Linked DNA regions of Homo sapiens. The protein of the gene in region 6 purifies or fractionates together with the protein of the main gene of each other region. This does not show direct contact. Each region holds a gene or a part of one and is shown on either strand. Other genes may lie near its edges.

The links.
Region 1: the proteins of DRD3 (region 6) and SH3GL3 purify together in Homo sapiens (pull-down; one study listed by IntAct). This does not show direct contact.
Region 2: the proteins of DRD3 (region 6) and PTDSS2 purify together in Homo sapiens (affinity purification with mass spectrometry; one large-scale study listed by BioGRID and IntAct). This does not show direct contact.
Region 3: the proteins of DRD3 (region 6) and ARCN1 purify together in Homo sapiens (co-immunoprecipitation; one study listed by IntAct). This does not show direct contact.
Region 4: the proteins of DRD3 (region 6) and TM9SF4 purify together in Homo sapiens (affinity purification with mass spectrometry; one large-scale study listed by BioGRID and IntAct). This does not show direct contact.
Region 5: the proteins of DRD3 (region 6) and SLC9A3 purify together in Homo sapiens (affinity purification with western blotting; one study listed by BioGRID). This does not show direct contact.
Region 7: the proteins of DRD3 (region 6) and BRI3BP purify together in Homo sapiens (affinity purification with mass spectrometry; one large-scale study listed by BioGRID and IntAct). This does not show direct contact.

What each region holds. Positions count from the first base shown.
Region 1 is NC_000015.10:83,586,841-83,590,340, reverse strand, and holds part of SH3GL3 (endophilin-A3), read right to left. Parts: exon of another isoform or gene 3,366-3,500; intron 3,359-3,365; coding exon 3,255-3,358; intron 2,984-3,254; exon of another isoform or gene 2,828-2,983; intron 1,680-2,827; coding exon 1,570-1,679; intron 1-1,569. UniProt on the Homo sapiens protein: Implicated in endocytosis. May recruit other proteins to membranes with high curvature.
Region 2 is NC_000011.10:448,879-453,078, reverse strand, and holds the start of PTDSS2 (phosphatidylserine synthase 2), read right to left. Parts: upstream 2,801-4,200; 5' UTR 2,624-2,800; coding exon 2,442-2,623; intron 1,723-2,441; exon of another isoform or gene 742-1,722; coding exon of another isoform or gene 644-741; intron 1-643. UniProt on the Homo sapiens protein: Catalyzes a base-exchange reaction in which the polar head group of phosphatidylethanolamine (PE) or phosphatidylcholine (PC) is replaced by L-serine. Catalyzes the conversion of phosphatatidylethanolamine and does not act on phosphatidylcholine.
Region 3 is NC_000011.10:118,578,909-118,582,408, reverse strand, and holds part of ARCN1 (coatomer subunit delta), read right to left. Parts: intron 1,164-3,500; coding exon 900-1,163; intron 1-899. UniProt on the Homo sapiens protein: Component of the coatomer, a cytosolic protein complex that binds to dilysine motifs and reversibly associates with Golgi non-clathrin-coated vesicles, which further mediate biosynthetic protein transport from the ER, via the Golgi up to the trans Golgi network.
Region 4 is NC_000020.11:32,140,714-32,144,213, reverse strand, and holds part of TM9SF4 (transmembrane 9 superfamily member 4 isoform 1 precursor), read right to left. Parts: intron 2,718-3,500; coding exon 2,549-2,717; intron 2,449-2,548; coding exon 2,319-2,448; intron 1,233-2,318; coding exon 1,109-1,232; intron 1-1,108. UniProt on the Homo sapiens protein: Associates with proteins harboring glycine-rich transmembrane domains and ensures their efficient localization to the cell surface.
Region 5 is NC_000005.10:482,950-486,449, forward strand, and holds part of SLC9A3 (sodium/hydrogen exchanger 3 isoform 1 precursor), read right to left. Parts: intron 2,283-3,500; coding exon 2,204-2,282; intron 1,749-2,203; coding exon 1,571-1,748; intron 534-1,570; coding exon 313-533; intron 1-312. UniProt on the Homo sapiens protein: Plasma membrane Na(+)/H(+) antiporter. Exchanges intracellular H(+) ions for extracellular Na(+) in 1:1 stoichiometry, playing a key role in salt and fluid absorption and pH homeostasis.
Region 6 is NC_000003.12:114,172,553-114,176,052, forward strand, and holds part of DRD3 (D(3) dopamine receptor), read right to left. Parts: exon of another isoform or gene 3,374-3,500; intron 1-3,373. UniProt on the Homo sapiens protein: Dopamine receptor whose activity is mediated by G proteins which inhibit adenylyl cyclase. Promotes cell proliferation.
Region 7 is NC_000012.12:125,000,145-125,003,644, reverse strand, and holds part of BRI3BP (BRI3-binding protein precursor), read right to left. Parts: intron 1-3,500. UniProt on the Homo sapiens protein: Involved in tumorigenesis and may function by stabilizing p53/TP53.

The DNA.
Region 1 (3,500 bases), on a different chromosome or scaffold from region 6:
CACAAAATGTAAAGTCACAAGCAAAAGACAGACACATTTGACTACATCAAAATAAAAGCTTCTGTATACTCAAAGCAAAACTAAACAAAGCAAACAACAGCAAAAACAACAAAGGGACAAGGCACTCCAAAAACAAAGTTTAAAGATAAATGACAAACTAGGAAAAAAATTATTAATATCCTCATATGGAAAGAGCTCCTATAAAACAATAAGACAAAGCAAACTACTCCCAAAAAACACAAATAAATGACATAAACAGACAATTCAGACATAAGGAAATACAAATTAAAATATAGAAAAGAAAGTTCACCCTCACTAATAATCATGAAAATGCAAATTAAGACTGGATACCATTTTTTTCTCATGAGTGCTTGGCAGAAATGGAAGTCTACTGGCATGGGTGTGGGGAAGCAGGTGTTCATGCTTTAATAGTAATGTAGCCAGCACAGTGATAAAGGATACTCACTGTAGCAAATAACTGGAAAAAACCTTAACGTCCACCAATAGGGAAATGGTATAATAGAAAACTATGAAGCTGTTAAAACAGTGGGATAGATCTATATGCATGATATGGAAATAACTCGAAGAAACAGTGATACATTTTAAAAAGCAAACTGCCAAACAATATGCCTAGTATAATCTCGCATTTAAAAAACAGAAAAAAGGCTGGGTACAGTGGCTCATGCCTATAATCCCAGCACTTCAGAAGGCCGAGGCAGAAGGATTGCTTGAGCCCAGGAGTTGCAGGCCAGCCTGGGCAACAAAGTAAGACCTTGTCTCTACAAAAAATAAAAAAATTTGCCTGGCAGGGTCACATACACCTGTAGTTCCAGCTACATGGAAGGCTGAGGCAGGAGGATTGCTTGAGCCCAGGAGGTCAAGGCTGCACCGAGCCATGTTCATGCCATTGCACTACAGCCTGGGTGACAGAGCAAGACTTTGTCTCAAAAAAGAAAAAAAGAAAAAACAGAAAAAAATCCAAAACGCTGTTTATGTGTATATTTATGTACCTCAATAGATATGATAATAGTTATACCAAATTTTTTTAACAGTGGCTACATCTAGGAAGCGAACTGCGATGGTGTAGGTGATCACAAGAGACTATAGAATGACTTATACCATTAAATTTTTTTTTCTGTTTGATTATTTTACCAATTTTTTTCTGTTTGATTATTTTACTAAAAGACACATTTGCATCACTTGTTTAATAAAAAATAACGATGCAGCACTTAAGATAGTATCTAGCATATAGCAGTTGCTCAAAAATGCTAATTTCAACTTAAAAATAAATTAAGAAAATATTTTCAAAGAGTTAAAAAAATAAAGGATGATGTAGCCATAATGGTTCTATGGCCAAGGTTCTAAATGCTACATTATATAAGTGATAGAATTCTTCCCCAGGGAACAGAAAAAAGGGGCACGTTTAGGGGAAAAGGGAATTTACCAAACAACCAAAGAAAGATATCCAGGGTCTGTGTGTATTCACTGACCCAGAAACAAGCAGTAAATAAGTGTTTCTAGAAGTGCTTTACTAAAGGCACACTTAGCATATTAGAATGGTCAACTTACCTGTCGTCTTCACTACAGAGGTGGTGGAAACTCCATTGAGCTCACTAGAACTCCTTTTCACAGGCCTTGGCTTGTATTCTCGTCTGGGGACACTGGATGCAGCTGATATTCTGTAACACACATCGTAAGATGAGCCAGACATCTGATGTTGAAAGCTTTCCAAACACACATCCTCTCTGCCTTGTTGAGCACAGGAACTTAGGTTACAGCCAGTGGTCATGAAAGGGACGATTTTTACACACTGACTCTTGAGTAGCCCGAAGTGATGGAGGTGATATCACAAATGCAGTTTTTCAACTCCCTATTTGAGCTTGTGAGTGAAATTCATCTTGAAGAAGACTAATTGGGCCAGCCATGGTGGCTCATGCCTGTAATCCCAGCACTTTGGGAGGCCAAGGTGCTCACCTGAGGTCAGGAGTTCGAGATCAGCCTGGCCAACATGGTGAAACCCCATCTCTACGAAAAATACAAAAATTAGCCAGGCATGGTGGTGGGCGCCTGTAATCCCAGCTACTCGGGAGGCTTAGGCAGGAGAATCTCTTGAAACTGGAAGGTGGAGGCTGCAGTGAGCAGAGGTTACGGTGAGCCAAGATGGCGCCACTGCACTCCAGCCTGGGCAACAGAGCACGACTCCATCTCAAAACAAAACAAAACAAAACAAAAGACTAATTTTCTTCATCAAGTCTCTGAGGCATCCAGCAAGTGCCTGGGACGCGGTCGGCACCCAGTGATGGGAGCTGCCTTCTCCCTCACTCTACTCTTATAGATTATGATAGAATTATGAAAATACACTCCTGTCAGTAACAGGTAAACTATCTGCCTGCAGAAGTGGATGCTTCAGGGACTGAACACATCTTTGTCTTCCCTAGGTAACTACGTCATTGATTTAAGTAAAAATCCCTCCAAATTTATGCATTACCATAATCCTGTGTAAAACAATTTTCTGTTATCAAACCTAATTTAAAATATTTTAATAAACAGGGTTGCCATGCAGACTATATATAATATTACTAATTTTCAGAAAAGTATAGACTACATCTATGATTAAATTCACAAGGAATGCAGAAACCTTTCTTTGATTGTTCAGAAGATATTTTTGACTCTTTCAATACCTGTCAATATTATGAACACAGCCTGAAATTTGTCAATATTTTGACTCTTTCAATACTAGTCAATATTATGAACATATCCTGAAATTCGTACTGGTGAAGTGAAGGCACTACCTTTTTTTTTTTTTTTTTTTTTTACAGATATTTACATATTTTCCATACAGCATCTCACTTTTTTCCATAGCTCTGGATGTTTTCCATCCCTTTGTGAATGGGGAGTTAAACTCTCATCAAATCAGCAATGAAGCCAGGGTAGTTCTGTAGGGGTTGATGTCCCAGGTGGGAGAGCAACTTGGTTAGTTGCCCTAAACACGGGTCACAAAAAAAAGGGATTTAATGAAAAGAAAAAGGAGAAAAGCTGCCAGGTCCCTTTTCCCAGTTCTATCCTACTGGCCAAAGCCAGTACTTATTATCTCAGTCCCATCCCACATCCAACCATGAAAGCCAGTGAAAGAAAATTCAAAACAGAATGAGGCAGGGGAAGGGGGAGATGGAGAGATGGAGAGACAGACAGATGGATTTCAATAGATGTTACCTCCGCAGCCCTTGGCTTGTAAGAAACGTGGAGGTGCTTACCGCATCTGTAGCTTGCTCTGCAGCTCCTGCAGAATCTCTGTGGACTGTCTGTGATAGTCTAATGCTGCCTCTATGAACACAGCCAACTGGCTGACTTGTTCTACCTGCAGCAGAAGTGCAAAATTATTCCATGGAGGCCCGAGCCTGTGTAATGTCCAGAGAGAGAGGAGACCAGCAGCAAAGACCTAGCTTTGCAGGGAAGACCAGTGTCTGCCTTGGTCCATTTCATTTAATTTCATGTAGGAG
Region 2 (4,200 bases), on a different chromosome or scaffold from region 6:
CCGTCACTGGCCCGAGGAAGTGCACCCATCCTTGAAAATGAACGCCCTGGCTGGATGTGGTGGTGCATGCCTGTAATCTCAGCAATCTGGGAGGCTGAGGCGGAAGGATCACTTGAGGCCAGGAGTTGAAGACCAGCCTGGGCAACACAGGGGGACCCTCTATTAAAAATAAATAAATAAATAAAAATGAATAAAAAATAAAAAGTAAAACTCTCTAAAACACAAAATTAGAGTTAAAAAAATGCCAGCACAGCAAGTCAGTGCAGGTGGACTCAGGAGGTCAGTGTGAGGCTCTGCAGGTAATGAATTCTCACCAGGCAGGCATTGAGTTACCTGCCACCCAGAAGCGTGAAGCTCCTTCCTCTGCACAGGGAAGGGAGGAGGCACAGCAAGAACCTGCCCCATGCGTCTCTACAGGGACAGGGTCGAGGGGAAAGCCAGAGCCAGAGCCACCCACCCAGAAGACCCAGGAAGGAGGTACCTGGACCAGCCAGCCCCGCTGCACCCGCTCCTGGAGAGCCCTCCTGACCCCCTTGGCCTCCTGACAGGCAAGCTCTGCTGCGCCCAGCCGTCTGTGTCCCAAACACCCCTTGTGGGCAGGGACCACTGGTCTGGGCTTCTAAAGAGACCGGCCCCCTCCTACCTTTGGGCTGCTGCTCCTGCTTCCCTGGTACTGGGTGGGCTGCGCAGGCTTGCATGTGCCCCCTGGCTCCTGCCACACTCAGCACCCAGCCAGCACATTTTGAGCCTTCTGAAGTTCCATGCCTGCACCAGAATCTAAGCTTCTTGTTTAGTTCTCTGCTATGTCCCGTAGAACGGTAACTGACAGGCAGTAGGGGTCCCCACAATGTGCTGAACGGCCAAATGAGAAACAAGAAGAGCCAGTCTGGTCTCCTCGCTCCGGGACCTCAGAGGAGCCCGTCTGTTCTCCTTGCTCCGGGATGTCAGAGGAGCCCGTCTGGTCTTCTTGCTCCGGGACCTCAGAAGAGCCAGTCTGGTCTCCTTGCTCCAGGACCTCAGAGACTCCGGTGGTCCCCAGCTGTGCTGCGGGAGGACAGCCTGAAGGGGTGTGGCAGGGCACCTGATGGAGAGGCCTGATGTCCACAGGGCCCGGAAGCCAGAGGGTCCACGTGGCAGGCACCCCATCTCCTCTCCCTCCCGAGGGCCCCGCAGCCACCCGGTACACTCATCTCCCCAAAGGAGAGCTCGGATGCCCTCCCTGCAACAGCAGCTGCCCACACCTCACGGAAGACCCTGCGTGGGGCCTCCTCCACCCTAACCTGCTTTCCCACCACTTGGACAGTCTCTCTCCAGAGCTTCGGCTGCGGTGACAGGCCAGGACCGGTTAAGTCCCTGTCTGTGGTGGCGCCTTCCCCTGACAAGTCCCTTACTCCTCCATCAGGCCCTCCTCGCCCCTCAGATTTGCTCTCCGACCATCCCACAGCATGGTTCTCTTGGAAGCGTCCATAAAGCCTTCCTTCCACTGCTGGCCGCAGGCGCCTGTCTCCCACACGTTTTCCTGGGGCTGACCCCACCTCTACTGCCCCTGTGCCCCCGGGCCTTCCACAGGATGGGAACTGGGCACCTTGCAGTCAAGAAGAGCCAAACCCTCCTCTCACGAAGCCTGCTTTCAGGTCGACGGCTTGATCCTTCTCACAGAGGAGCATCGGCAAAGGGCCAGCCCAGGGTCGCAGCTGTCGGGAGTAGGAGCGGCACCTGGAGCCTGTCTGGACACAGAGTGCCACACTCCAGCTGCTCCCGGGGGCCTCTTCCTTTTCCACCCCCATTAAAGGCAGAGTGGCGGACAGGGGGACCCCAAGGTGTAGCTAGGGCTGAGTTGTGCAGGGAGGAGGCGCTGGCCCCGCTAGGGGCAACTGAGGAGAGAAACAGAGCCTGGATTCGACGAACACCGACTACATTCCTGAAGCACGCACAACACTCTGCTAATCAACACGATCGCCACGTGGGGTCGGGCGCGACACACAAGATGATTTCGTGCAGCCGCAAGCACTGAGGAGCAACCACAGGCAGAATGACGGGGGACACAGGTGAAGCTTCGACAGCAGGACAGAGAAAGCGTTTCTGGGGTGACGCTGGAGGCGGGTGGCGGGGAAGGGGTCTGGATCGCAGAACCGCGCGGTCAGAGCCAAGGCGGGCAGGGGTGGGGAGGGCGGCGAGAGAGACGCAAAGCGGCCGCAGGGAGGGTCTGCCCAGGGTCTCCCCCACCTACAGCGCCGCCCTCCGCCCGACCCGGCGTCGGGAGCTCGGTCCGGCCGCTCCCCGGGACCCGGGGGGCGGTGCTGCCACACCCTCAAACCCCCGGCCACAGTCCTGGACTCCAAGACGGCGAGAGGGCGCTGCCGGGGACCCCCAGGCCAGCGGTGCCGGAACCCCCAGGTCGAGGGCACCCTCGCCGCCCCGCGGCCGCCCACTGCCCTCACCAGAAGAAGGTGTTGGTGCCGTCGTCGTAGACCTCGGACTCGGTGCTGCGGCGGCCCTCGCCCGGCCCGGTGGCTTGGCCGGCAGACGGCCCGTCAGGCGGCTCCTCCAGCGAGGCCCTGCCCGCGGGCACCGGGGACTCGGGCCGCGGACCTCCGGCGTCCCTGCGCTCGCCCCTCCGCATGGCGTTTCGGCCCGGAGCCACTCCGCCCGGCGCCTCGACCCCACGCACACCGGGTCACCGGCGAGAGGACGCGCCGCACACAGCGCGAGGAGCGCTGGGAAGGGGTCGCGGCGCTGGCCCGCGGGGTCTTAGGAGAGCAGCGCGGGGCCGGCCAGTAAAGGGTGTGCGGTGCATTGTGGGGCTTGTAGTCCGCGCGGGGCATGCTGGGCCTTGTGGTCCGACGTCGCGGGTTGGACGCAGTGCTTGCTGGGAAGGATGACGCCTGGTTGCTGGGAAACCGGAGCCGGACCGCCCTGCGGCTGAGGTCGCAGGAACCAAGCTGCGGATGGCGCGGGTCTCGCCAAGGCCTCCAGAGCTTGGAGGTAACCACAGACATCCCCGGCGGCCTGGCCCGAGTCCCTCCACCCCTTCGCCCCTTCCTCGCCGACGGATCCCGGAGCCCAGCCCCGTTCTCCTTTTGGGGCGCTTCCCGACCCTTCACCCCATGCGACCCGGGTCATTCCTTTTTGAGACGGAGTCTCGCACTGCCGCCCGAGCTGGAGTGCAATGGCGCGATCCCGGCTCACTGCAACCTCCGCCTCTCGGATTCAAACGATTCTTCTGTCTCAAGCTTCCCGAGTAGCTGGGATTACAGGCGGCCGCCATCACGCCCGGCTAATTTTTGTATTTTTAGTAGAGACGGGGTTTCACTATGTTGGCCAGGCCAATCTCGAACTCCTGACCTTGTGATCTGCCGCCTCGGCCTCCCAAAGTGCTGGGATTACAGGCGCGAGCCACCGCGCCCGGACCGGTCTGGGTCATTCTTTCGCAGGATCGCGTGAAATTGGGCGGGCGAAAATGGTGCGGACACGCTGATTTTAGTTGACCCAAATTGTTGACATGGTACCCTGCAAAAAAATTAGCTCCTGAGCCACTCTGAAAAGCAATGTGGCAGCTCCTCAAACCTGGAAACAAGTGTCCACGCCAAATTTACACACTAGCGCTCCTAGTTGCAGCATTTTGATAATAGCGGCATGTTATTAGCCATAGAGGAGCGAAGCATGCGCATGCTACAGCACAGCTGGACCTTGAAAACATTATGCTAGGCAGGCCGGGCGCGGCGGCGCACGCCTGTCATCCCAGCACTTTGGGAGGCCAAGGCGGGCGGATGACTTGAGGTCAGGAGTTCGAGACCAGCCTAGGCAAAGTGGTGACACCCCATCTTTACTAAAAATACAAAAATTGCCCTGGCATTGTGGCGGGCGCTTGTAATCCTAGCTACTCGGGAGGCTGAGGTGGGAGAATCCCTTAAATCCGGGAGGTGGAGGTTGCAGTGAGCCGAGATTGTGCCACTGCACTCCATCCTGGGCGACAGAGCGAGACTCCGTCTCAAAAAAAAAAAAAAAAATGCTAGGTGAAAGAAGCCAGTCACAGGAGACTACGCATTATGTGATCCATTTGTATGAAATGTCCAGGAAATGCAAATCTATGAAGACAGAAATTAGATGAGTTTTCACCGGGGGCTGGGGAAGGGGTAATAAGGAGCGACTACAAAGGGTAGCAGGTTTCTTTCGGGGCGATGAAAGTGCTGTAATATT
Region 3 (3,500 bases), on a different chromosome or scaffold from region 6:
CCTGTAATCCCAGCACTTCGGGACGCCAAGATAGGCAGATCACCTGAGGTCAGGAGTTCGAGACCAGCCTGGCCAACATGGTGAAACCCCGTACAAAAATTAGCCAGGCATGGCGATGCACATCTGTAATCTCAACTACTCGGGAGGCTGAGGCCAGAAAATTGCTTGAACCTGGGAGGTGGAGGTTGCAGTGAGCCGAGATTGCACCATTGCACCACTGCACTCCAGCCAGGGCAAGAGCGAGACTCCGTCTTTAAAAAAAAAAGAATCAGGGTCTTGCTGTGTTGCCCACACTAAAGTATAATGCCTGTGCACTTGAACTCCTGGCCTCAAGCAATCCTTCTGCCTCAGCCTCCTGAGTAGCTTGGACTACAGGCACATGCTACCGCACCTGGCCTTAGCCTTCATTTTAAGCAAGACTTTGGCATAAAGTCTTAAAAGGTGTGTGTGTGTGTGTGTGTGTGTGTGTGTCTGTCTGTCTGTCTGTCTCTGGATCAGTAAGTCTTACCTAAGTCTTCATTTTAAGCAAGACTTTGGCATAAAGTCTTAGAAGAGGGGTGTGTGTGTGTGTGTCTGTCTCTGGATCAGTAAGTCTTACCTAAAAAACATTACCTAAAAAGCATAGCCAAACAAGTGTCAGAACTAGAACGGCAGATTAGAACAACTGCTTAAGAACTGGGAAATGAAACAGTAGTTCCCATATTCTTTTGAGACATCTATAGTCTAAGAGGACACCCAATAAATGTCTGCTGAATAAACAAGGTGCTGCAGCAATAAGTCGCTGGGGTGCGGAGTAGGAACCTGCAAACTGGTTAGCATCAGCTGCTTTGGAGGAAAAACTAGTTTCACATAAAATGTAAAACAAAAAGTGGAACCCAGTATTATAGCAGTACTCTTACCACTCTTGAGAAGAGCCTTAGGGTCTCCAAATCTTCTAAAATGTTGCTGTTTTTGGTAGTGATCAGTACCATATACAGTTTCTCCATAGGCTGGTAGACATATCTTACACTCTCTGTTTCAACAAACGTATGTTGTTTTCCAGTGTTCATGAGCTTTGGAAAAGCTGCTAATAAGCCCTCAATCCGAGTTCGGGTCATTTCCACAAACTGTCGAGAAACAATAGCCTTTCCTGCTTTTGTGCAGACCGCTGCTGCCAACAGCACCTGCCAGGAACATATGCATAAGTAAGTACTAATTATTTCTTCACATCTGTTTTCTCAGCATCTCAGGAAATGTTCCATAGAATGACATATTTATTTAGTGACATGACTAGTAGTAGTATTATTTTTAAGACAGGGTCTCACTCTGTCACCCATGCCGGAGTGCAATGGCAAGACCACAGCTCACTACAACCTCAAACTCCTGGGCTCAAGAAATCCTGAGTGGCTGGGACTACAAGTGTGTGCCACCAAGCCTCGCTAATTTTTAAAAAGCTTTTAGTAGAGACAGTATCTCGCTATGTTTCCCAGGCTGGTCTTGAACTCCTGGGTTCAAGCGATCCTCCTGCCTTGGCCTCCCAAAGTGCTGGGATTATAGGCGTGAACTACCACGACCAGCTGACATGACAAGTAATAGAATACTGACTTTCACGGGCACAGTGGCTCACACCTGTAAACTCAGCACTTTGGGAGGCCAAAGCGAGTGGATTACTTGAGGTCAGGAGTTCGAGACCAGCCTGACCAACATGGTGAAACCCCATCTCTACTAAAAATACAAACACATTAAGAGACTTAGACATGTCAATCAATCACAATGTATAAATCAAATTTGAACAGTGACTGAATAATTGATAATATTAAAAATTATTGCTAATTTTTTAGGTGTGAAAATATGCTATCATGGTAATATATTTTTATGTAAGGAATACTTATATATTTTTAAAAAAGAGTTGTGTAGTTTTGAATCCTTCCATAGTCTCTCATATTAAAGGTGCTCCCTCAATGACTTTATATTGAACTAAAATAATTGTCTGGGATACATCTTATCTTCAAACTACGCTAGTTTTGCATGTAGTACTAACAAAAGGTCACTGGATTTAGTAATTATCCTGAGGATCAGAATTCACAATTTCTTTCTTTTTTTTTGGAGACAGGGTCTCACTTTGTCACCTAAGCTGGACTGTAATGGTGCAATCTTGGCTCACCGTAGCCTCAACTTCTGGGCTTGAACAATCCTCCTGCCTCAGCCCCCTGAAAGGAGCTGGGACTATAGGCAGGTGCCATCATGCCTGGCAAATTTTTGTATTTTCGGTAGAAGTGGGGTTTCACCATGTTGCCCAGGCTGGTCTTGAACTTCTGGACTCAAGTGATCAGCCCACCTTGGCCTCCCAAAGTGCTGGGATTACAAGCATGAGTCACCACGCCTAGCCAGAACTCACAATTTCATGTGTTGAATATCAGTTACAAAATATTCCTTTTAAAAGCAACTATCCTAATATTATATAAATGGGTTTTTATGACTTGGGATAAAATTTCCCAAACTGCCAATATATCACACATGGATTCAAAACTGCTAAATACCAAACTGATGATTCAAAAAGTGGCCCCAGTGATGACATGATGTTCATAAAGAATCTAGAAAAAATTGTTTTATTAATATGAAAATGGAAAAAAGTAATTATTTCTAAATTAAACTTTATTTATTTAAAACATATACATATAAGTGAATTATTAACTATTTTAAGAACATATTTGACTATTTTTGCTACCTTTTTTTTTTTTAAGATGGAGTTTTGCTCTTGTTGCCCAGGCTGGAGTGCAATGGCAAGATCTCCGCTCACTGAAACCTCCACCTCCCAGGTTCAAGTGATTCTCCTGTCTCAGCCTCCCGAGTAGCTGGGATTACAGGCGCCTGCCACCACGCCCGGCTAATTTTTTTTTTTTTTTTTGTATTTCTAGTAGAGATGGGGTTTCACCATGTTGGTTGGCCAGGCTGGTCTCAAATGCCTGACCTCGGGTGATCTGCCCACCTCGGCCTCCCAAAGTGCTGAGATTACAGGCATGAGCCACCGCCCGGCCTATTTTGGCTGCATTTTAAAAAGTTTATACAATTGGCAAAAAGCTTTCCTTCTTAATAGTTTCATCAGAAAAGTAGGGAATTCCCTTATATTTGGGATCATTTCACATTGGTTTCTCCTTTTCCTAAAGACTTAGAACTAGTGTCCCAAATTTGCAAAGAACCAAGCTGATATTAGAAAAACTAAATGACTGGGAGTGAGAAAATCTATTTTCTAGTTTTGTTCTTCTATTTACTATCTGCCTGACCTTCAGTTACCCAACCTCTCTTAACCTCGTTTCTTTTCCTATAAAATGCAGCATTATCTAATGACCTTACAAGCTATTATGAGGGCCAAATGACTATAATGAAACTGTACTTCAGAAGTGCTATACAACTTGTAGCACATATATTCATGATGTAAAACAGCACCATTAGTAATAATAAACATGCATCTCATGAAAAAAATTTATGCCACTTCAAGGTAATGGATTTTTCTTTTTTTA
Region 4 (3,500 bases), on a different chromosome or scaffold from region 6:
CAAGCACTTTGGGAGGCCAAGGCAGGCAGATCACGAGGTCCGGAGTTTGAGACCAGCCTGGCCAACATGGTGAAACCCCGTCTCTACTAAAAATACAAAAATTAGCCAGGTGCGGTAGTGGGCGCCTATAATCCTAGCTACTTAGGAGGCTGAGGCAGGAGAATTGCTTGAACCCAGGAGACGCAGGTTGCAGTGAGCGGAGATCGCGCCACTGCACTCCAGCCTGGGTGACAGAGCAAGACTCTGTCTTGGGGGGAAAAAAAAAGATAAAATGGTAAGAAAAGGAGACAGGGAGACTCTAAGCTTGAAGAGCCAGTGGGGGAGCAGGTGGCCTCAAAAGCGTCACACATGCAAACGTAGAACTGCGCTCGGGAAGCTCCCAGGGGAGATGTGCTATGGAGCTCTTGAAGGGCAGGATCTATGTTTGGGACTTCTGTGTCTAATTTTGTTTGAACACTAAGTTCCACAGTGGAAAAAAAAAAAAAGTCCAAATACCACCAACATGGTCAAAATCCTGGGCATGCTGCTTAATTAAAAAGCACACTGTGATGATCAAGGGCCAAGAGGTGAGGCAAAGCCGGACCAGCTCCTGTGAGGCCCATCAGGACTGTGCTGGACTCTCAAACTCCCGCACACCTGTTGACCCTGGGCAAATTTTAGTTTATGCCAATCACTCACACAGCGGGAGAGGAACGAAGAAACCTGCTGCCTACAGGCTTTGTCTGTACCCTGGCCCCTTGTTCTCAACCCAGGGTGAGCTGGCTGGTTCTTGTGAGGAGGCCCAACAAAGCCCCAACTTGCTGTTTGGTCTTGGCCAAGTCACTAGCTCCTTTTGAGCCTCTAGTTCTTCCTTTGTAATCATCACGTACCTCCTGGGGTTGCTGGGAAGGGGTAAACTAGTAAGGTGTCTAGCCCGTGACACTGCAGCTGTCAGCTGCCCCCACACCCCGTCTTCTCTAATGAGAATACCATGATCCTACCTTGGCTGGGCCCACACGCCACACCCGAGCCCATCGGCCAGCTCAGGAGGGAGAAGAGTGCGAAGACCCTGCGTGGAGAAGCCCAGGCCCATCCAGCCCTGCCCCTCCGGCCACACCTCCCCACTCACCCTCCAGCCTGATGCTCTGGGGAATCACCTCGAAGCGGACGACACGGTACGTGTGCTCCTGGTCCTCTTCCATGTCCTCCCGATGATAGTAAAGGATGAATGAGAGGTGGTTGTGCAGGTAGATCTGAAACACAGCAACAGAGAAAGCACAACAGAACATCACTTAGGGATACTCTCCAGGTATTAGGGCCCTTGCCTCACCCAGCATGCCTGGTTGTACCAACCTTCCTAAAACACTGTTCTCATCACTCCCCTACTCAGAAGCTCTTCAAGGGCTCCCTGCAGCTTATCAGACAAAAGCCCATTTCTCAAAGTCTGGCATTCAAGGCCTTCTATCATCTGACCCTGATACAACTGGGTGTAATCATCTAAGTCACATGAGTTCACCTAGACTCCCCTGTGCCCACCGCCCCATGAACCAGTCTCTACCCTGCAATCACTCCAACTAGAATGCCACCCCCAACTCCACTCAGCAAAAGCCCACCAACTTCTCATGGCCCACCTCCTCTGTGACAACCTGAGTGTAAAAGGAGCTCCCTCTGACCTCGCCTGCAATTAATGGCCAGTGAAAGGCAGCTGGGACTGGAGACTTAGAGCCTCCCACTGTCGGTTCTCTTCCCAGTTAGGACAGACGCCCTTTGGGGACAGGGGCTGCACCTCAAAACACATACTTTTGTAATTTATTCCCTAACTAATATCTTTCAGTTTAGAAAGAAAGATAAGAGAATCAGGGCTATAATCATCACATTATTAGCTGATTCTCCAGGGCTGTGCTGGGAAGGGCTCACACGAATGTGCTAATTTACCCCGCCACTGCTGCTGCATACATTTTACAGCTAAGGAACCACAGGCTCAGGGTCACTTAGACAACTAGTAACTGGGAGAGGAAGGATTCAAACCCAGGGAGCCTGCACGCTCTTGACCACTACTTAGCCCTCTCTCCTACATACTGATGAAGTTCCACGGTTTTTTTTTTTATGTTGTTTTAATCTTACAAAAATGGAACCTAACTTCCTAAGAATTGTGGCTTCACCTCCCTGTAGCACCTCCCAGGGACTTGCCCGGAGCACTCGGACCTCTGACAGACCATCATGCCCAGGGCACCTGGAGAAACTTGCTGTGGCCGAGCCCCACCTTTTCTGTGGCCCCAAGTGCTCAGGACTCGTGAGGTGTGGCTCCCGGTCCTGTGAGCACGCCAAAGACACTCTACCTTGTTGACATCTGTGAAGCCGAGCCGGTAGCCGTGTTCAAACTGCACATCTTTTTCCTTCTTCTTGTCATCGCTGTCTCGGTTGGAGTAGAGCTCCAGCCGGGTGGCCACAGGCAGGTTGTCAGCAATGCTGGAAAGTGAAGGCCCCACTCAGTCCCTCTCGACCGCCTCTCCCGTCAGTGTCCTCCCCTGTGTGAGCCTGAGGCAGCAAGGAGCACAGGGCGACTTACAGGTGGACGTAGTAGTCTTCTGTGATCCGCTCGGCCACGAGTCGGCTCTGCTCCACTGTCAGGGTCACTGGCTTGTTGGACTGGCTGCACAGAACTTCACACTTCTTCTCGCTGTTCATGAGAACCTGGAAAGGGGTGTTGACAATCCGGTCCCCTCTCAGCACCTCTCCTGCCGTAAGAGAGACAGATCAAGCTCAGAGCTTCAGCCCTGAGGTTGCTGAGGTCAGCAGAGTCACAGAGACACAGGACTGCGGGGCAAACATGGGCTTTCAAGGACTTCAGCAGTGCCTCAGCCTGGCAGCCAATGCCCTTCCCATTGCTTCACGCCCAACGGTCCCAGCTAACCTCGACCTGCCACCCTCCTCCTTTGGGCTCTAGTGCTACCAGACCCCTTAGCACTCAGCACTCATCAAGCATCACATCCTTTTTTTTTTTTTTTTTTTTTTTTTGAGATGGAGTCTCGCTCTGTCACCCAGGCTGGAGTGCAGTGGCACGATCTCAGCTCACTGTGAACTCTGCCTCCTGGGTTCAGGCCATTCTCCTGCCTCAGCCTCCCGAGTAGTTGGGACTACAGGTGCATGCCACCACGCCCGGCTAATTTTTTGTATTTTTAGTAGAGACGGGGTTTCACCCTGTTAGCCAGGATGGTCTCGATATCCTGACCTCATGATCTGCCCATCTCAGCCTCCCAAAGTGCTAGATTACAGGTGTGAGCCACCGCGCCCAGCCAAGCATCACATCCTTCTATGCCTCTGGGCCTCAGTCGCTTCCTTCTCCTAGAGTTCCCTGCCCCATGCTCCTGGCCTCCCCAGAAGCCCAGTTTCCATTTCACTCTCTCTGGGAAGCCCTCCCTAACCCCTTCAGGACAAGCCCATCACTCCCTCCCCTGACTGCCCTGTGTGAGGGCAGCATTATGCAGTGGAGGGATGACTCTGACTCTCGGCTGCCTGCC
Region 5 (3,500 bases), on a different chromosome or scaffold from region 6:
CGTGCATCACACACACGGGTGCTGGGGGATGGGGCTGGGCGGGGGCGGGGCTGTCTTGCTTCCCGTTCCATCTCTCGTGCCACTGACCCTGTCTTGAGGCACATCCAGTGGAGTCAGTGGGAAACCAAGTGGTTTCCCTTGGGGTTCCAGAGCCTCCCACCCCAGCCCCGAGGCCGCCACCATCAGGTCCTCTCCTCTGCCTTGCACGGGGCTGCACCTCCATCTCCCTGGGCCCAGTAGAAAGCCTGCGCCTTCCCGGAGACGGTGCCGGCCCATCGGTGGTCCCACGGCCGCAACCCGGCCCCGCCTCACCGATGGCCCGGTACACGGAGATGAAGACCAGCGTCAGGAGCACGAAGGCCGTGTTCCAGGTCCAGATGAACGGGTTCACGGCCGAGATACCCAGGAACATGAAGATGATGGTCTCGGCGCTGCTGGCCAGCATCTTCATGGTGTAGCGCACGGTGGTGGCCGACTGCTCCGAGATGTTGGCCTTCACATACTTCTGACAGCAGATGCCACAGAAGGTGATGCTGCAGGGACAGACGCGCCTCAGGACACGGCCACCTGGCCTGGCGCCCGAGGCCCCCGTGTCCGCCCAGCCCCCCACGGCCTGGCGCCTGTAGGCCCAGAGTCACAGTTGTGTGGTTACGGGGGCCTCTTCCTCCCGAGCCAGGCTGGGCCGCCAGGGTTCCTGCCCACAGCCCTGCGGGGGCCACAGGCGGCATCACCGTCATGCAGATAATGGGCACCGGGGCTGCCTGCCAGCAGGGAGGGCAACAAAGGGTTCCAAAGTCCCTCCCCACCTGACCTGTCTCAGGGTGGGCACTGCTGTCGGCCCACAGACAATTCAGTGGAAACGCCAACTCCTTATTTTAAAATTTAAATAAATTCTTTGCCCCACACTGAATTCCCACCCAGCCTGGGAGCGCCAGCGGAGCGGGCGAGGTGACGGGACACTGCTCTGAAGGTCCCGCGCTAGGACAGAGGGCAGGGGAGGCCCTCCACTTCCTGTACTTCCCCTCACGGGGGTTCACGGGGAACTTGGTGATGCAGAGCCCGGAGCTTCTGCCACACACACCCCCGGTGTCCATGCGGCTGGCACCTCCCTCCGAGTTGGGGTCCCCCTGGCTGGCTCACCCCGCCGGACCCAGGAGGGTGTGGAGAAGCTCGGGTTGGGGTCCCCCTGGCTGGCTCGCCCCGCCGGACCCAGGAGGGTGTGGAGAAGCTCGGGTTGGGGTCCCCCTGGCTGGCTCGCCCCGCCGGACCCAGGAGGGTGTGGAGAAGCTCGGGTTGGGGTCCCCCTGGCTGGCTCGCCCCGCCGGACCCAGGAGGGTGTGGAGAAGCTCGGGTTGGGGTCCCCCTGGCTGGCTCGCCCCGCCGGACCCAGGAGGGTGTGGAGAAGCTCGGGTTGGGGTCCCCCTGGCTGGCTCGCCCCGCCGGACCCAGGAGGGTGTGGAGAAGCTCGGGTTGGGGTCCCCCTGGCTGGCTCGCCCTGCCGGACCCAGGAGGGTGTGGAGAAGCTCGGGAGGAGGGCGTGGAGAAGCTCGCGTGTGTGGGAGGGACTCACGCGAGGATGGCCGACAGCGACAGCATCTCGGACGTCAGGTAGGACAGGTAGGAGATGATGAACACGAAGCCGGGCTCGATGATACGCACATGCTTGGTGAAGCGCGTCACCAGCGACAGCAGGAAGGCGAAGACCACCCCCACCAGCGTGCCCCCCAGGCTCACCACGAAGAAGGACACTGGGTAGAGGACGCCCTTTGTGGCCGTGCCGGCCTTCCGGGCCCTTCCTTGCCAGGGGCCGCCTGGTGACCCCGCGGAAGTGCCGGGAGCCCGGGAAACGGGGGTGGATCCCTCACTCTCTTGGAGATCGGGCCTGGTCTCAGCACCAGCCTTGGTTCAGCAAGTGGGGAGGACCCTCCCGTGCCCCTGGGAGCCTGGCCCCAGGCCCTATCCGGCCGTCTGTCTCAGGAAGACCTGGCTGCCCTCATCCCTGTTCTGGGAAACACCCAGGAACCCCCAGGACCATGTCAAATCGTGTGTGAATCGCTCTGGACGGGGACGTGACGTGGACAGAAGGGCCCAGTGTAGCAGCTTTGAGTGCAAAGCTTTTTCCTGCATGGGCTGCAGGCCAGAGAAGACAGTTGGCCCCAGAGGAGACACGGCCGCCCACTCCCCCTGACCCACAGCTACACACCTATGCCCTTCACGCAGTCCACGCCAGTCACGTTGTCACCTCCCAGCGCCACGAAAGATTCAAACACATTGTACAGAACCTGCAGGGAAAACGGGCAGGGCGTTGGGTGGTCCTTGGTTAGTGCCACCCCCTCTCCGGGGCCCGGGCCTCGCTGGACTTGGCCCGAGTGTGGAGCCCATGGCACCCGAGGCCGTTGGAAGGAAAATCATCACAGGGCAATGGCCCCCAAAGGGGAGAAGCCCAGAGCCCAGCAGCCAGCAAGACATGGGGCAAAAGAATGTTCTGGAGGGGACCAGAAGCTTTGGGAGCAAAGCTGGCCTCTTCCTATCCTCTGCAAAACAGGGGCAGCTGCAAAGCTCCCTGCCACTTGAATTCTGAGTCTCATCTACGGAGACAAACCCAGGGTGTCAGTTTGAGTGACTTCCCTGCTGTGCTGGCTCTAGCCCCTGCCGTCTTTGCATGTTTTTAAACCTTAGCCCGGCAAAACCCAGAGATAAAATGCGGGGAAACCTTATCCACGCCCTGGGCTCCACGCCCAGCAAAGTGGTGACGCAGGTGAGACCGGCCGAGGGCCGTCCTGGGTGGGCCGAGGCCCCTGGGGAGAACCTGGCTCTGCACCCAGCTCTGTGTCTCTGGCTCTGGCCAAGGTGGGAGAGGACCCTGGGGCAGGCGTGTAAGTTGGGTTTGCAAATGCAGGCTGGGGTGGGGGGCCCATGAGGGTCCCGGGGTCTCTTGGGGCCTTCTCGGAGCTGGGCTTTTTAATGAAAATCCAGCTGGGAGGGAAGACAACCTCTTGGGAGACTCTTGCTTCTCCAGGGACGGGAGCCGCAGGGCTGCGGGGCACACGGGGCTGTCACTCTATTCCCGATTAAGTCTCACTTCCCAAATTCCCCCGAGAATATCTTGCCGTCTGGTGTGCGACACCCACAGGACTTTCCTCTTTCCAAAACCCCTAAGGGAACATGAGAGGCTGACGGGTTTCAAACCTTTCAAACCACAGGCACTTTCAGAGGGGAGAGGAAGCTGACCCCACCCTTCCCTCCGGCTGCGTCTGCAGGGTCCTCGGGGCTGGGGGAGGATGGGCAGGGGCAGCACGGGGCGGGGGCAGTGTGGGGGCTGGGATGGTGTCGGGGCCGGGCCCAGGGCTGGCCTCACTGACGGTTCCTAGGAGGGCCACTCTGCACGTGCCCCTCGGATGGCCCCATGACTCACTTCCGGGAGGCAGTGGCCCCATTTGATGGGATTGGCTTTGAAACGTCACGATTGTCACTGTGAAGTAGTAACCATGTTCCTTGGG
Region 6 (3,500 bases):
GAATAGGAGGGTGTGAGGTAGACAGATTGTGCAGGGCTATTGAAAGTACCATGCTTGGACTCTGAGTGAGATGGGAAGCTGTTGCAGGATTACAATCCCAGCTCTGCTGCTTCCTAACTCTGGGACCTTATGCATATTACTTTACCTCTCTGAGCTCCAGATTCTTCCCATGTAAAATGTGGGAATAATGAAACCCATCTATCTTAGTCCATTTTGGGTTGCTATAACAGAACACCTGAGTCTGGGTAATTTATAAAGAGCAGAAATTTGTTGTCTCACAGTTCTGAAGGCTAGGGGAAGACATAAGGCCTGTGACTTAGGGAGTAACCCTGAAACCCAAGCAAAAGTGACTCTTGCCCCAAGCTCTAGAGGAGGTGCTATAGAGGAGTCCACTCTGGTCTTCTGCTGTGGTCTCGGTGTTTGTGTCTCCCTAAATTCATATGTAGAAATCCTAATTCCCAATATGATGGTATTAGGAGGTGGGGGTCTTTGAGAGGTGATTAGGTTATGAGGACAGAGCCCTCATGAATAAGATTAGTGCTTTTATAAAAGAGACCCAGAGAGCTAGCTAATCTCTTTCACCATGGGAAGACATAGTGAAAAGACAGCCATCTATGAACCAGAAAGCAGGCCCTCACCAGACACTGAATCTTCTGGTGCCTTGATCTTGGACTTCCCAGCCTTCAGAACTGTCAAAAATAGATATCTGTTGTTTATAAACTACTCAGTTTATGGTATTTTGTGATAGCAGCCCAAAAGGACTAAGGCACCCTCTACTGGTTATGCCTCTAACCTCTATAGAATGATGTTGTAACCTCCCACAGTGCCAAGGAGAAGGTCCACTAAGTTTACAACCCTGTCTAGACCACACTCAGGGAATTCTCTACCCAACTGCTCAGAGCCTGTTTCCAAGACATCACGGGTCTCATTCTAAATCTCTCACTCTGACGGGAGACTGTGCCATAAATGTGTAGGGTTCCTGGGGCCAAGTGGTGGCTTTCAGTTAGAGCTCAGACAAATAGATTCTATGTAGCCTGAGGTTGGGAGAGAAGAGGCCAGGGTCCCTGAAGCAGATTAGGGGTGGGGGCCCAGCTTCTCCTGTATGATCACATTTTGTATGGAATTTTGAAAGGTCCAGGAATCTTAAATTCAAACTTGGCCTTCCATGTTGTTACGAAGGTGTATTTGTCAAGGTGGGAGGATGAAACATTTTACTCAATGGCTTGTTGGTTACAACTTTAAAATATTTAAGCATGGTACATATAGACCTTTATGGGAACTCTCTCTTCAGGCCTTGGCAAAAGTAGAGGCTGACTTGGTGGCCAGAATTTGCCCTCAAGCCAGGTATCTGTAGCTCTCCCTTGATTAGGAGACCGGCCTAATCATGGCTGTCATTTTGTACCTCACTTTGAAATGTTTCAGCCTGAAATATGAAAGAGTTAAAATGAACAAATACTTGGGAAAGGGTGACAAACTTGGAATGAATTTAGAGAATTGTTTAAAAAAATTGTCCTTTATCTTGGCACACTGTTTGCACTCAATGTATTTTAAAACATAATAATAATTCTTGATAATAATTATAATTTTCTCATTATTCAGAGGAGGGCAGCCGCTACCCTGGAGATAGCACCGCTGCTGCCAAGAGCTTTTGGAAAAATACAATGCTTTCTGATTGTTCAAGGATATTCCCACTTTTAAGGCAGGCTGAGGCCCAAATGTCTTCCCTTTCACAACTGGGCCACTTTGGAACACAGTGGCCAGAATCCCTCTTTTCTGGGGTCTGCAACTGGTGAATAATGTCTTAGCCTCCTCTCACCTGCCACGTAAGAGGGAGGCATAAAACCTTAGGATACTTGTTACTCTTTTGCTGGACTTTTTACTCTGCCAAGAGGTTTGACAGCTACCTAAAAATAGTATAGCTGAATGCCAGTGGCTAATTATACGAAGGGAAACCCTCAACTCTGAAAATCAATTCTGAGCCTGATGTTGGAATCACAGTTGCATGGATTTCTGATTTCATATTTATTTTTTCCACATCTGATCTTAGATCCTTTATAGCAGCAGGTGGGTTAAACCGTGATTGTTCAGGTAGTTTCTGATGAGTTGTGGATGTGGGAGATGAAAGCAAAGATGAGTGAGATGCTAGATTACTCTCTATCCCTCAGCTAATTGTTTCAACTTCCTCCCTGCTTAGATTTTTTTTTTTTTTTTCAAACCAGAGTTGCTTATATAACACAGAACTGAGCTGGGCTTTCTTCTTTCTTTTCCCCTCTGTTAGATATGCTAACAGATAGGAAACGGGTCTCAGGTAAGAAGAAGCAAAGAGCCTAGAGAATTCATTAACTCAATCACTCTCTAAGTAATTTACAATGATAGGCTGGTTTCCTCATCAGCAAAATGGAGATAATCATATCCATTCCATAAGGTTATTATGAAGACTAAATGAGATTATATACATGAAGTTTGGCACTACTGACAATTTGGGCTGAATAATTCTTTGTTGAGGAGGTTGTCCTGTGCATTGTGGGGGGTTTAACAGCATCCTTTACATATACCCACTAGATGCCAGTAGCATACCCCTCCCCACAAGTTGGGACAATAAAAAATGCTTCTAGACATTGCCACATATCCTGGAGCGGGGGTGCAAATTGCTCTCCCCATGAAGAATCATCACTCTAGCATAATGTCTGGCACATAGCACTAGAAATATAGTTGCTTTTATTGTTAAGAGGAAAGTGGGAATAGGTGAAGAGTTAAATAAGCTGCAATTGTAAAGTATCTAGTGAACTTGGAAATGATGACTGACATTCATGGTGGCATTCATGCTTAAACATTCATGAAGACATTCTTAATGTCATCATGTCAACATTCATGATGACATGCTTAAACATTCAGGACGATATTCATGATGGCATTCATGCTTACAAAATCTAAGCAGGGAGGAAGTTGAAACAATTAGCTGAGAGACAGAGAGTAATCTAGCATCTCACTCATTTTTGCTTTCATCTCCCACATCCACAACTCATCAGAAACTACCTGAACAATCACGGTTTAACCCACCTTCTGCTATAAAGGATCTAAGATCAGATGTGGAAAAAATAAATATGAAATCAGAAATCCATGCAACTGTGATTCCAACATCAGGCTCAGAATTGATTTTCAGAGTTGAGGGTTTCCCTTTGTATAATTAGCCACTGGCATTCAGCTATACTATTTTTAGGTAGCTGTCAAACCTCTTGGCAGAGGAAAAAGTCCAGCAAACAGTGTTAGGAGTTAAAAGTGGATAGGAGGTAAAAGAATAGAGAAGGCAGAGAAATAGAAGATTACTCTTGGCGTCAGTCTTTTAAGATTCATTACATATAACACTACTTACACATTTTAATGAGCTTTTAAATGCCTTACAAAGTATTGATTTATCTTGGTCTTTATAGTTTGTTCTGGCATCTCTTAGAGTGAGTGCATAACCTATTTAAAAAGGCAGGGGAACAGAGAGTTGTCAG
Region 7 (3,500 bases), on a different chromosome or scaffold from region 6:
ATTTTTATTGTTAAAGATGCTAACTGAAATATGCAAAGGTGAACTAATGTATTGGATTAGCTTTAAAATATTATTCCAGGCACCCTCAAAAAAATTTAGGAAGGAAAGAAGTAACCAGAATGGCAGAAAGTTGCTACATGGGAAGACCTGGGTGAACAAGGGTTCACTCTACTCTCCCTACCTTTGGTTATGTTGGACAATTTTCAGAATGGAAAGTTGAAATAAGGGGACCAGGTGAGCAAACTGTGGATGCCTGAGGACTCAGACAAACAAGGCCCAGCCATCGCCTCCATGGGAGGGAACAAGATTGCTTCAAGCCTGGGATTTCATCAGCGCTCTTCTTGCAGCAGTCAGGCGGGGGACATCCAACACCCGGGGACATCCAACACCGGGGTTGGGTGACAATGGCCTTCCTGCATCCTAATCTCGCTTTACCTCCATCACCCTCAGGCACATGCAAACGGGTCCTATGGAAAATCAGGCCATGAGGGCAAAGGCATCTTGATAAGCAAGCCAGGGAGAGGGGACGGGAGATTCTGCCATTCAGAGGTTTCCCAAGCATCTGAAGAACACACAGAAATGCAAAAGCCAGATGAACGGAAAATGCTGGAACATAACATACAGACCACGTATGAACCACAGAGGGGAAAGGGCACCCCCAGCGCAGTGGGCCTGCCCAGCCTCAACCCAGAGATCAAATTCAGCGTCAACCAACGAGAATGCGATGGCACAAACAGACACCACGAGCCCCGATATGGTACTGCCTCAGCAAGGACACATGATGCCTTCTGCAGAATTCTTGCCATGAAAGCTAAGTCTGAGCCTAACCCGGAGGAGATAATCAGAATAATACAATACACACTGTGGGACATTTCAAAAGACAGTTCTGGGCCAGGTGTGGTGGCTCACGCCTGTAATCCCAGCACTTTGGGAGGCCAAGGTGAGTGGATCACGAGGTCAGGAGATCGAGACCATCCTGGCTAACACAGTGAAACTCTGTCTGTACTAAAAATACAAAAAATTAGCTGGGCGTGGTGGCGGGTGCCTGTAGTCCCAGCTACTCGGGAGGCTGAGGCAGGAGAATGGCGTGAACCCCGGAGGCGGAGGTTGCAGTGAGCAGAGATTGTGCCACTGCACTCCAGCCTGGCAACAGAGCGAGACTCTGTCTCAAAAAAAAAAAAAACAAAACAAAAAAAAAAACCAGTTCTGGACTGTCAAAACCACAGCAATACTACTTCACGTCTGCCAAGATGGCTAGAATTAAAAAGGTAGACCATAGCAAGTGCTGACAAGGATGTGGGGAAACCAGGCCCCACATGCTGGTAGGCAGGTAAAACGGTACATCTGCCTTGGAAAAGGGTGACGGTTCCCCAAAGTGTTAAACAAAAAGTTCCTGTATGACCCAGCAACTGGACTCCTAGGTATGCACCGCAAAATACTGGAAACAATGCCCACACAAATATTTGCACATGGATATTCACAGCAGCATCCATTCACAATAGACAAAAAGTGACATAAACCGAAATGTGCATCAGTTGATGATCAGGTAAATAAAAAGCCATAAAGAGGAATAAAGTATTGATCCTGCAGTATGGATGAACCTTGAAAACATGAGGCTAAGTGAAAGAAGCCAGACACAAAAGGCCAGACTGTACAGGACTCCACTCCTATGAAAAGCCCACAGTAGGCTCAGAAATAGAGACAGAAAGCAGATTGGCAGTTGCTTAAGGCTGGGAGTTGGGGCAAAGGAAAAAAGTAGTGACTGCTAATGGGTACAGAGTTTCTTTTTGGGGTAATGCAAATGTTCTAAAACTGACTGTAGTGACAGCTGTACAGCACTGTGAATATACTACAAACCGCTGAGCTTTCAATGAATAAACTGTATGGTATATGAATTATAGCTCAAAAAAAAAAAAGACATTTAGTCTGTGATCTTCAGAAATGTCAATGCTGTAAAAGTCCCTTACTGGGCCAGGCGAAGTGGCTCACGCCTATAATCCCAGCACTTTGGGAGGCCAAGGCGGGAGGATCGCATGAGCCCAGGAGTCAAGAGACCAGCCTGGGCAACACAGGGATTTCGAGGAGAAATCCTGTCTCTACGAAAAATACAATAAATAAATAAATAGGCATGGTGGCACATGCTTGTAAGCCCAGCTACTCAGGAGGTTAAGGTGGGAGGATCGCTTGAACCCAGGAGGCAGAGGTTGCACCGAGCCGAGACTGCGCCACTGCACTCCATTCTGGGCTACAGAGTGAGAGCTTGTCTAAAAGAAAAAAATGCATAATTGGGGCCGGGTGCGGTGGCTCATGCCTGTAATCCCAGCACTTTGGGAGGCCGAGCCGGGCAGATCACGAGGTCAGGAGATCCAGACTATCCTGGCTAACACGGTGAAACCCCATCTCTACTAAAAATACAAAAAAAATTAGCCGGGCGTGATGGCGGGCACCCTTGGTCCCAGCTATTTGGGAGGCTGAGGCAGGAGAATGGCGTGAACACAGGAGGTGGAGCTTGCAGTGGGCCGAGATCGCGCCACTGCACTCCAGCCTGGGTGACAGAGCAAGACTCCGTCTCAAAAAAAAATAAAAATAAAAAAAAATTCATAATTAAGTCCCTTCCTCCACCAAAAGTGAGGAAACTCTGACAGACTAGAGACATGAACACTAAATGCATGAGCAGTCCTTGACTGGGTGTTGGATTTTTTATGAGCTATAAAGACAATTTGAATATGGACTATCTGTTACAAAATACTGTACTATATTTAAGTTTCTTGGCTGAGACAATGGTATTGTGGTTCTGTAGGAAAAAGTATTAAGACGTCTGCAACTAACTTTCAAATGATCCTGCCAAAAAATAAAAATAAATGTGTGTGCATGTGTGTATGTGTCTATCGGATGTGTTTGCAGAGAAAAAAGTTTGAGGGGAAATGTAAGAACTGGTGACTTTAGGGGAGATGTTTGCAGCTATTCCTTGTTCTGTTCTTTCAGCATTTTAGTACTTTGAAAAATTATCAACATAAAAAATTATAGGAAACAGGCTGGGCGTGGTGGCTCACGCCTGTAATCCCAGCACTTTGGGAGGCCGAGGCAGGCAATCATGAGGTCAGGAGATCGAGACCATCCTGGCTAACATGGTGAAACCCCGTCTCTACTAAAAATACAAAAAATTAGCCGGGCGTGGTGGTGGGCGTCTGTAGTCCCAGCTACTCGGGAGGCTGAGGCAGGGGAAAGGTGTGAACCCGGGAGGCAGAGCTTGCAGTGAGCCGAGATTGCGCCACTGCACTCCAGCCTGGGTGGCAGAGCGAGACTCCCTCTCAAAAAAAAAAAAAAAAAAAAAAATCATATGAAACTTTATCTTAACTGTGGTAATTTTTCACAAGTGTGTATGTCAAAAGGTGTCAACCTGTACACTTTAAATACGCACAGTCTATTGAGGTGTAGTGCAATTACACCTCAAAAAAGCTGTTAAAATGTTGGTAGGGGAAAAAGGACTGGAAAGTGTC